Linked DNA regions of Homo sapiens: regions 2 and 3 are each reported to be linked to region 1. The links are microRNA targets in miRTarBase. Many come from high-throughput screens and were not tested one by one. Region 1 holds a microRNA gene; each other region holds the end of a gene's coding sequence. Distances are from middle to middle.

Region 1 (3,319 bases):
AGGACCAATCCTGGCTGCTGGCGTCTGGGTCGCCGGTTGGGCGCGCGATAGGTTTTCAGTGCTGAAGGTCGACGGGCGAGAACTACAGTTCCCGTCAGGACGAGCGGAGCGGCGGCTTGTTGCATCCTTAATAAGGAGGTGCCTGGACTTCTAGCGAGAGTCCACATTTTAGGGGTCAAGGTTGTAATTATCTGGGAGGGAGTGCCTTTCTTTTCGCAGCTGAGAACACTTCTGAGTTATTCTTAATCCAAACAAAAGCGAAAGATTTTCATTTGTGGAGCTGAAACTCCTGGTCTTCAAGGAAAGACAGGAGTCATGACCTTGTGGCTCATTTCTGAGATTAGGGCAGGGATCTGTGTCTCCAGGCGCTGGGACTACTTTGACATTCAAGGAGCCTAAATACCCAGTTACTTCTAGTTTTGCGTAATTGCCAAAGTTACTTTCTAAAATTGAAAATTAAAAAGCCTGTTTCCACTGCTCATGATTTTCAGGAAGTTGATATTTTGGCAAAATGTAGATAGCAAACCAAGTACTGTGACTCAAGCAGTAATTGAACAGAATCCCTAGGAATAGTGAGTTAGAGATCATAAAAGTCAAGCTTTGTTTTTTCAAGTTCGCTTCTCTTCCTATTTGCTGCTAGGTAACAGAAGCAGCCCCTTCCATAGGAAAGTGGAACGAACCTGTGTTAGTTTTCTATTGCTGCGTAACAAATACCACAAATTTAGCAGCTTAAAACAACACCCATGAATGACCTTACGGGTTCTGTAGGATAGAAGTCTGGGCACGGATGATCTGTGTTCTCCGCTCCAGGTCACATAAGGCTGCAAAGTATTAGCCATGCTGTGGTTCTCATTTGGAGATCAGGGTCCTCTTCCAGGCTCATGCAGTTTGTTGGCAGAATTCAGTCCCTTGCAGTTACAGGACTGAAGTACTTCTTTTCTTGCTGCCTCTTGCCAGCCACTGCTCCCAGCTTCTACAGCCTGCCTACAGTTCCTTGCCTCAAGGCCTCTAGAGGCCATTCATAACATTGATGTTTGCTTTCGTGCAGGCTACCAGGAGCTTGCCTCTCTGACTTCCAAATTTCTTTTACTTTGGTCTTTCCTCTCTAGACCCAGATTTAAAAGGCTTATGTGATTAGACCAGGCCCACCTGGATGACCTCCTTTTCAGTTAATTCAGAGTCAACTTTTTGGGATCCCATTTGGGAATTAAGAAAACTAATTAAAACTTGGTAATAAAAAATGAACCCTTTTATAGCTCTGAATCAAGATGTCTAAGCTTCTTGAAATTGCTGTCTTGTAAAATTCTTTGGTTTATTCTCACCATCTCCTTAATTCTGTAGCATTTGACATTGCTGCTTTATGAGGCTCTTTGTACTTTTGGCTTCTCTCAAGTAATATTTTGGGTCCCATCTCTCTTGTTTTCCTTTACTGAGTCTGCTTCTGCTTTGTACCTCGAAATATACACCTTCTCATCTCTTCCTGTCTCTTTATAGACTCTCTAATTTGAGATTACATCAACTCTCAGAACTTTAATCCCCAAGCAGGTGACTCTCTAGCCTCGTCGTATTTGATTGTATCAACGTATCCAGAATATCTCACTTGTCAAGATCCTTTCCACTTTATTAAACCCCATCTTTCTTTTTTTTTTTTTGGATACGGAGTCTCACTTTGTCACCCAGGCTGGAGTGCAGTGGCACAGTCATGGCTCACTGCAGCCTTGACCTCCTGAGCGCAAGCAATCCTCTTACCTCAGCCTCCTGAGTAGCTGGGACCACAGGCATGTGCCACCATCCCTGGCTAATTTTTTAAAAAATTTTTGTAGAGACGGAGTCTCTCTGTGTTGGCCAGGCTGGTCTCGAACTCCTGGGCTCAAATGATCCTCCCACTTCTGCCTCCCAAAATGCTGGGAATATAGGCACGAGCCACCGTGCCCAGCCAACCCCATCTTCTTAAATGTCTTACTGCTTTTACTGTTCCCTCCTAGAGTCCATTCTTTACTCTAGGAGGGAATAGTAAAAGCAGTAAGACATTTAGTAAAAGGCTTTTTAAAAGGCAAACATGAGGTCATGCTCTTTGGAGACATCGCATCACATTCAAAATAAAATCTAAACTGCTTACCATGGGCCCTTGATCTGACTCTTCTCATATTTCATTTTTCTACTGCCTCACTCAGATTCTCCTGGTAATCTCCAGCATGTGCCTCACTGCCTTTTCATCAGGTGTTTCTTTTGCCCTGAACTCTTCTCACAGGTTTGCTTAACTTATTCCCTTCAGTTAATTTCTCAAATGTCACCTTCCCTTCAGAGAGGGCATCCTGATCCAAAATAGAATTCTGACTACTCTTGCCTTCCTTGTATCACTATATCTTTACCCCATCCTACTTTGTTATACTTTGTAGCTCCTAGCACTACCTGATGTTATAATGTGTATTTATTACACAGTTTCCACCTTTAAAAAGTAAGCTCCACAATGGAACTGTGTCCATATTTACTGCTGTATTTCCAGTATTAACAATAGTCCCTGGCTCCAAGTAGATGCTCAGTGAATGTTTATGACATATATAAATGAAAGAATGAATGTGTTCATGAATTTTTTTTTAATTTAAAAAGATTTTTTAGAGATGGGGTCTCATTATGTTTCCCAGGCTGGTCTTCAGCTTCTGGGCTCAAGTGATATGCCCACCTCGGCCTCCCAAAGTGGAATTTTTCTTAATCTGTGTAAGTGGATGTGACCTCCCTTTAAACATCCCATAGATTTTCAAACCTCTGATTATATATTCAGATTCTCCAGAGAAACAGAAACAATAAGGGTGTGTGTGTGTGTGTAGAGATAGGGTCTCATTCTGTTGCCCAGGCTGGAGTACAGCAGTGTGATCATAACTCATTGCAGTCTCAATCTCCTGGGCTTAAGCGATCCTCCCACCTCACCTCCTGAGTAGCTGGGACTACAGGCTTATGCCACCATGCCCAGCCAATGTTTTGGACTTTTAGTAGAGATGGGATCTCGCAATGTTGTTCCAGCTCATTTTGAACTTCTGGGCTCAAGCAATATCCCCACCTTCTCCTCCCCAAAGTGCTGGGATTACAGGCGTGAGCCATAGTGCCCAGCCTAGGAAGATTTATTATTTATTTATTAATTTTTTTTGAGATGGAGTCTTGCTCTGTCACCCAGGCTGGAGTGCAGTGGCGCCATTTCAGCACACTGCAAGCTCCGCCTCCCGGGTTCATGCCATTCTCCTGCCTCAGCCTCCCAAGTAGCTGGGACTACAGGCGCCTGCCACCACGCCTAATTTTTTTTTTTTTTTTTTTTTTGTATTTT
Region 2 (3,000 bases), not on the chromosome of region 1:
GCTGGGCCCAGATGGAGAGCTGACCGGAAGTAGAGTATCTGTGTCCCTCGGGAAAGTTCCTTTCCTCTTCCTCTCCCGTGGCCCTTACCCCAGTGGCAGACAGGTCAGGACGTGCTAGGGGGCTGGTTCTTGAGCATCTCACTCTACTGATGCTAACACCTCACTTCCCACAACATATCCCTGCTGAGAACTAGTCACAGGCCCCAGGAGTAAGTGCTGGGCTGAAGGGTGGTCCAAACCCTACAGCAGGGAGCAGGAGTACAAATCAGTTCACATGTCTAAAGGCTGGGACCTGAACAGGGGAGTCCCTGAAACACTGGACTGACTCACCTGGACTGAGGTCAGGGCAGCCTTACTCTGCCGCAGTCACACTCAAGACTACACATGCGCGTGTGGGCACTGGAACTAAAATCCGGGTTGAGAGGCTGGGCCTGATATTTTGTGGCTAGAAGGGCCCCACATAACTCAGGTCCAGGGAGGTGAGTGACCTGCCCAAGACCACAAGGCTGTCAGTGGCCGAGCTAAGGACTGAGGCTCCTTCAACTCCAGGTTACCTTGCTGCCTTCTCAGGAGAGTGAAGAAAACGACTCCCTTCTCAGAGGAAACAGTCGTGTGCTTATCTGGACAGGGCAAGATTACACTTAAAGATGAGGGCTGTGAAGCCAGGCGTAGCAGCTCACGTCTTAATCCCAGCACTTTGGGAGGCCAAGGCAGGTGGATCACTTGAGTCCAGGAGTTCGAGACCAGCCTGGCCAACATGGTGAAACCCTGCCTCTACTAAAAATACAAAAATTAGCCGGGCGTGGTGGTGTGCGCCTGTAGTCCCAGCTACTCAGGAGGCTGAGGCAGGAGAATCTCTTGAACTGGGGAGGCGGAGGTTGCAGTGAGCTGAGATCACGCCACTGCTTGGGTGACACAGCAATACTCCATCTCAAAAAAAAAAAAGATAAAAAGATGAGGGCCATGGCTGCTGAGTTCCATCATCCACAGTTCAGAGCCCAGGTGGTGGTGAATAATCCACACTAGATTGACTTCTGGGATTCCTGGATTCTTTCACCACTGGGTTCCCTTGACCCGGTCATGCATCTTCACCAGCCTAGCCTACTTACTGAGATTTAGTAACTGCACTGGACTAGGACACCAGTGCCTGGTTGTTGAGCTCAACTTCATCTCTCTGCTTGTTGAGTCACTGGACAAATCCTCCTTATCCTCTTGAATCTACTCGTCCACGAGACACAGGGGAAGATCCTCCCTTCCCTGAGAGGACCCAGAGCCTTAGGTGTCTTTGTGTCCCTACCAACTGAAAAGAACTCAAGACTTTCATAAAGAGGAAACCATTATCAGACTCTCCTACACATTTGTCATCATTAAGTAAGTTCCCAAGAGGAACAGAGTGACCCATTTGGCTGGGCAAAGCAAGAGCAAACGTCTTGAGAAATTTGAGCTCCTCATGCCCTTCCAGTCCTGCTCAGGTTCCAGGTTAGTTTTCTTCTCTAGGCTCCTTCCCTGGGCTCAAATTCTCAACTACTGTGGGTGGAGGGTTTGTGGAACGCTGCAGACCAGAGTTCCTCCCCTCTGAAGGCCTGTGTAGGGTTATCTGAAGTGTTTCCACCCAGAGTGCAGGAAAGAAACTCTGTCCAAGGGGCAAGGGGCAGCAAGTTCCGCAGGCACCCATGAGAGATGCCCAACACATCCCTGAAGAGCAAAGTTACAGCAGAATGTGAGGGAAGAGCCAGCGAGAGAGGTGCTCATGTTCTCACGCCCCAGCCTAGCCCAGCCAAGTGCTCACGGCCTGCACCTGGCAGTGCTGATGGTCTGTCCGTACCAAGGAGATGTGGGCTTGAACTCTGAGGTACGAAGACTACAGGTGGAGACGAGGAAAAGTGAGAAGGTAACTTCAGAGGAGACAGCAGGGTTGAATTGAACAGGAAAAGATCAAAAGTACAGCCAGAATCCCACTTGGTCTTTTTTCCATTCTCCTTTATTCCATAAACACCTAGTTACAAGTTGCACAAATCAAAAAATAAAGGCAGAGAAGGGTGTAGGGAAGATTCTTTTGATGTGTGTGGGCAGGAGGAGGGAGAGAGTTAGGAACCAGTCTGCTCCTTCCACAGCCCTAGATAGGGCTACGGCCCCTCAGTGGGGGCTCTGAGGAAGAGGTGGGCAAAGATCCAGGGTAGCTGAGGGATGGAGGGGGCCCCTAAACCCAGAGCTCACCCCAAAATGCATTGACCCTTCAATGCATGGCAGGAGTAGGATGGGAAAGGTGAGGGGGTTTGAAGATGGAGTGGCAGAATGAAAAATCAAGTCAGTAGATGCAGAGGCGAAGTCATCAATGGTAAACCAGGAGATTAAAGAAGGAAAAGGTAGGGAAAGGGTGCCGTGAAAGGTTCTCCCTGAGACCCCCAGGGAGAGGTGGGGGCCGGCTTGCCTGTTAATTTAATATTAAATTGGGGATGGGAATCGAGAGGAAAAAGTTATTCAGGGGATGATTTCTCAGCCTCTCAGCCTGTACCTGGAGGGGGAAAGAGAGAGGAGCACAAGTCAAAAGGAAGAAAAAACTTACGTTAAGAGCCAGGAGTTGGGGTTTAATCCCCTATGTCAGTGAGAACATTGTTCTCTTTCCATGTCAACTTGTACTACCAAAGGCAGCTCCTGCGGGAGCCTGAACTGAGCCTGCCTTGCAGCCGAGGACCGTCCGCAGGTGCACCCCACCCTCCTTACTCCTGATACTTACAAGAGAGGCTGAGGGCCCGGGGCCCTCACCAGTCATAGCGGCGGGACTGTCGGGAAGGGGAGTCCTCAGGTCCCTGGATGGCCAGGCGGGGAGGCCCCTCCGCCCTTCGTCCCCCAGCCCCTGAGGACTCAAGCCGCCGAAACTCCAGGGGACGCTGCTGCCGGAATCGGGAGGTCTCCCGCCGCCACTCGTCATCAAACGCTGCGGCCTCACCTGGAAAGGACAGAGCGGACATGAGGCCTGTGTGCGGCCTGGCTCCTGGA
Region 3 (3,344 bases), 76 Mb from region 1:
CCATCCATCCATCCAGCCACCCATTCATCCATCAACCGATCCACCTAGGGACCCATCCACCCACCCACCCATCCACCCATACTCCCATCCATCCATCTACCCACCGACCCATCCATCGACCCACCCATCCACCTATCGATCCACCCACCGACCCACCCATTCACCAACCCATCCACCCAGCCATCCATCCACCCATCCATGCATCCACCTGTCTATGCATCCACCCACCCATCCATTCACCCACCCATCCCCTCACCCACTCATCCATACATCCATCCATCCATCCATCCACCCACCCACCCACCCATCCATCCACCCACCCCTCCCATCCATGCATGTCTCCTATCAGTTCTGTTCCTGGAGAACCCTGACTAATGTAGTGGTCACTCCCATCTGTTTCTGTTGGACTCTGTCCCCATCATAAGTGAGCCCTCCCCACAACAAGCACTCTTGATTTAACCTTTGCCAGTCCCAGTTAAATGTTTATAAAATTCAAGCCGTTCACTGGCTGTTCTTCCAGGTGAGGCAGTGTTGCCAAAGGCACCGTCTTGCCTCTTTGTAGCAAGCTAGATCTGCCCAGGGCACCTGGCCTCCATCTCGCACCCCACCTGGTTCCCCCATCAAGGCTTGGTGGCTCTGGGTGCATGGAGAGTTTTACTATGAAATAGCTCTAGCAGTGCCATTGACTCAGAAGGCACTTGGCAAACAGACTCACCATTTCTATTAAAAGAGACATGGAGTCTTAAAAAATATTAAAATGACTAAAATCAACAAATTAGCTGCTGTTGCTGAAGGCCTGCTGGGAGGCAGGTTCCAAGCCATGCGCTTTGCATATGTGACCTTGAGCCACCCAGCTCCCCCCATCCCCTACAGTGAAGACACTGAGGCACAGAGGAGCCGACAGCAGCAGGCAGGTGGGCAGACGCCGTAGTGCCCGTCCTGGTAATAGAACCTCCATTCCACTCACCCCTTCCCAACCCTATGCCCTCTGGGGGAGGCAGATGCCACCTTGGCCAAGGGCCATCTTGACCAGCGTAAGCCAGCCGTGGCCATGACATGGTCATCTTGTGAACACAGGCCATGGTTTCAGCCATGAGATGTGGGGCTGGTGGGGACGGGGTGGTGGGCAGATTCTGGAGGGTTTTCCTGTCCCTCAGTGGGAGGACAGAGGCTTCTCTCCCTGCCTCTTGATGCTCCCATGTCAGCTGTACTGCCCAGAACCACAACAGCAGTTGTAGGCACCCCAGGAAGACAAGCCTGAGGTGAAAAGCTGACTGTGATTAGGAGGCGCAGTGCTGTTCACCCGAGGTCCCAGCTACTCAGGAGGCTGATGCGAAAGGATTGCTGGAGCCCAGGAGGTTGAGGCCAGCCTGGGCAACATAGAGAGACACTCTCTCTTAAAAAAAGAAAAAAAAAAAGACAAGCTGATGCCTGGGGATCCCCAGCGATGCTGCCTTTGGATCCCTTGGCAGGCGAGACCAACCAACCCCCACTTCTTCAGCTGGGCCTTCTGCTGCTGGGACCAGAAGCACTGACGGCAGCGGCGAAGGCTGGATGGAGAACCAGGCCTGCCACCTCTGGGTCCAGCCTGACTGCACCCTTGGCTATGCCCGTCCTCTCTTGGAATGTGGCTTTCCTACGACCTGAAACCGTGGAAGGAGAAGGAGAGGGAAGGGCTGGGGGGAGGCAGAAGCCTGACCGTCAGATCTGCCAAGAACAGTCATCGTTTATTTCCACGAGTATTTCTTGGCATTAGGCAGATATTGAAGAACAGGCTGTGCAAGATTTATAAACGCGGGGACAGCTGGAGGGACGTAAGAGGGGCCGGATTTACCAACAGCGGTGGCACGCAGCACACCCGCCTTGCCTGGAGAGTGCAGGGGCCACGGCCTGAGGAATGGGGGCTCCCGCGGGCAGACGCAAAACTCAGAAAATGCCATTTATTTTATCATTTTAATACCGGAAATGCCAGACCAATCAACAGGGAGGACAGACCAGACACAAATGCCTGTGCTCACAACACGGATGGGAGGATCATCACGGCTCAGGGCACACATGCATTTCCTTAGAAACAGGCAGACAAAGAGAGCATAAATACCACACAACAGCCAGGCTCAGGGGGCTGCGGGCCACAGAGGGCTGCGCTTCAAAGGCAGTCAGAGGCATTAAATACGGGACCTACACAATACACTCCACTTCACCATACATAATTTATATATTAAAAGAAAGGGGACCACAGTATCTATACGTGCAAGCGGCTGTGGTGGAGAAAATGAACGGGGGGGCAGCCATGCACGGGAGGGGCTCCCTGTATACCCTCCCGACGCCTCGTCCCCACCCTTCCCACAGAGTCACTTGGGATCACAAAACGCATGGGCCGGCCGGGGCGCAGCCTCGGGAGGTCCTGCCTGGTCTCCTCGGCATGGACCTCTGAGCTCCCCGTGAGCCGGGAGGTGCCTGGAACCAAGAACACTTGAACCCTGCATGTCACCACATCCCTGGGAGTTGCCCTGGAAGGGACCGGGCCAGGCGTGAGGGGAGGAATGTCGCGTTGGTCAGGTGGAGGAGGGAGGCGCAGCCACCGGGCTGGGCAGGTGCAACGCATGCCCCAGGCCCGGGGCCCGGGAGAGCAGGAACGATTGCGGGGCATCCACTCTTGCAAGCAAAGCTTAAACGGCACGACAAGCCTGTGTTTCTCTGCAACTGTCCAGGGGCCGCTCGCTCAGAACTGACTGGCACTGCTGGGGTCGCACTGCAGCAGGCGGACGATGGAGGGGTCGCTCTTGGCACCTCTGATGAATTCTTCCAAGGACAGTTTGCCTGCAGGGGACCAGAGACAATGGGATTAGCCAGTGCTCACTGTTCTTTATGCTTCCAGAGAGGATGGGGACAGCTCTCAGGTCAGGTATGCTCCCTTTGTTGAAAGTCCTGAGCCTTCTTGAAGCTGGACGGTGTCTAGTCTCCATTCACTTTACAGGCATTTCTGAAAAAAAATCCTTTTTCCTTTCCCTGCTCCCTGCAATACATCAGGTACCTCAAAGGGCTTACCCAGCAAGCTCAGCAGGACGTGGCTGATGAGGGCCATTTAAATCCTTTTAGAAATCACCCCACACTTCGCTTATTAAGGAACGTGTACACTGTGCAGAAAAATGAAGCATTTGCCTCTAACCCATACAGAATCCAGGCTGAGAAGGCCATGCTGGTTGGGGGCCCCCGGAAGCACGGTCCGGATCCTCCCTGGCATCAGCGTAGACCCGCTGCTCAGGCTTGGGGTACCAAACTCATGCTCTGTACTGTTTTGGCCCCATGCGGTGAGAGGAAAACCTAGAAAAAGATTGGTCGTG

The links. The annotated mature microRNA hsa-miR-4779 reads UAGGAGGGAAUAGUAAAAGCAG and lies in region 1 at 2,002-2,023, shown strand. An mRNA with a match to its seed (bases 2 to 7 or 8) in the 3' UTR can be bound and repressed. Matches are read on the target gene's strand: a 7mer-m8 pairs with bases 2 to 8, a 7mer-A1 pairs with bases 2 to 7 and ends in A, and an 8mer does both.
Region 2: the mRNA of MLF2 is a reported target of hsa-miR-4779. Seed matches in the 3' UTR shown: 7mer-m8 at 2,075-2,081.
Region 3: miRTarBase lists HPCAL1 as a target of hsa-miR-4779. Seed matches in the 3' UTR shown: 7mer-m8 at 2,564-2,570.

The regions. Positions count from the first base shown.
Region 1 is chr2:86,191,741-86,195,059 of GRCh38, reverse strand. It overlaps MIR4779 (microRNA 4779), which reads left to right and starts at 1,952; the gene lies at 1,952-2,034. The region is part of intron 1 of IMMT (inner membrane mitochondrial protein); the gene reads left to right. RefSeq lists an enhancer at 48-97.
Region 2 is chr12:6,746,033-6,749,032 of GRCh38, forward strand. MLF2 (myeloid leukemia factor 2) reads right to left here. Exons shown (of 9, transcript NM_001382226.1): 8 at 2,738-2,950; 9 at 1,964-2,515. The coding sequence ends at 2,763. Among named protein-coding and RNA genes, the nearest start is that of MLF2, 5.6 kb to the right of the region's middle.
Region 3 is chr2:10,426,200-10,429,543 of GRCh38, reverse strand. HPCAL1 (hippocalcin like 1) reads right to left here. Exons shown (of 5, transcript NM_002149.4): 5 at 1,940-2,820. The coding sequence ends at 2,723. Among named protein-coding and RNA genes, the nearest start is that of SNORA80B, 19 kb to the left of the region's middle.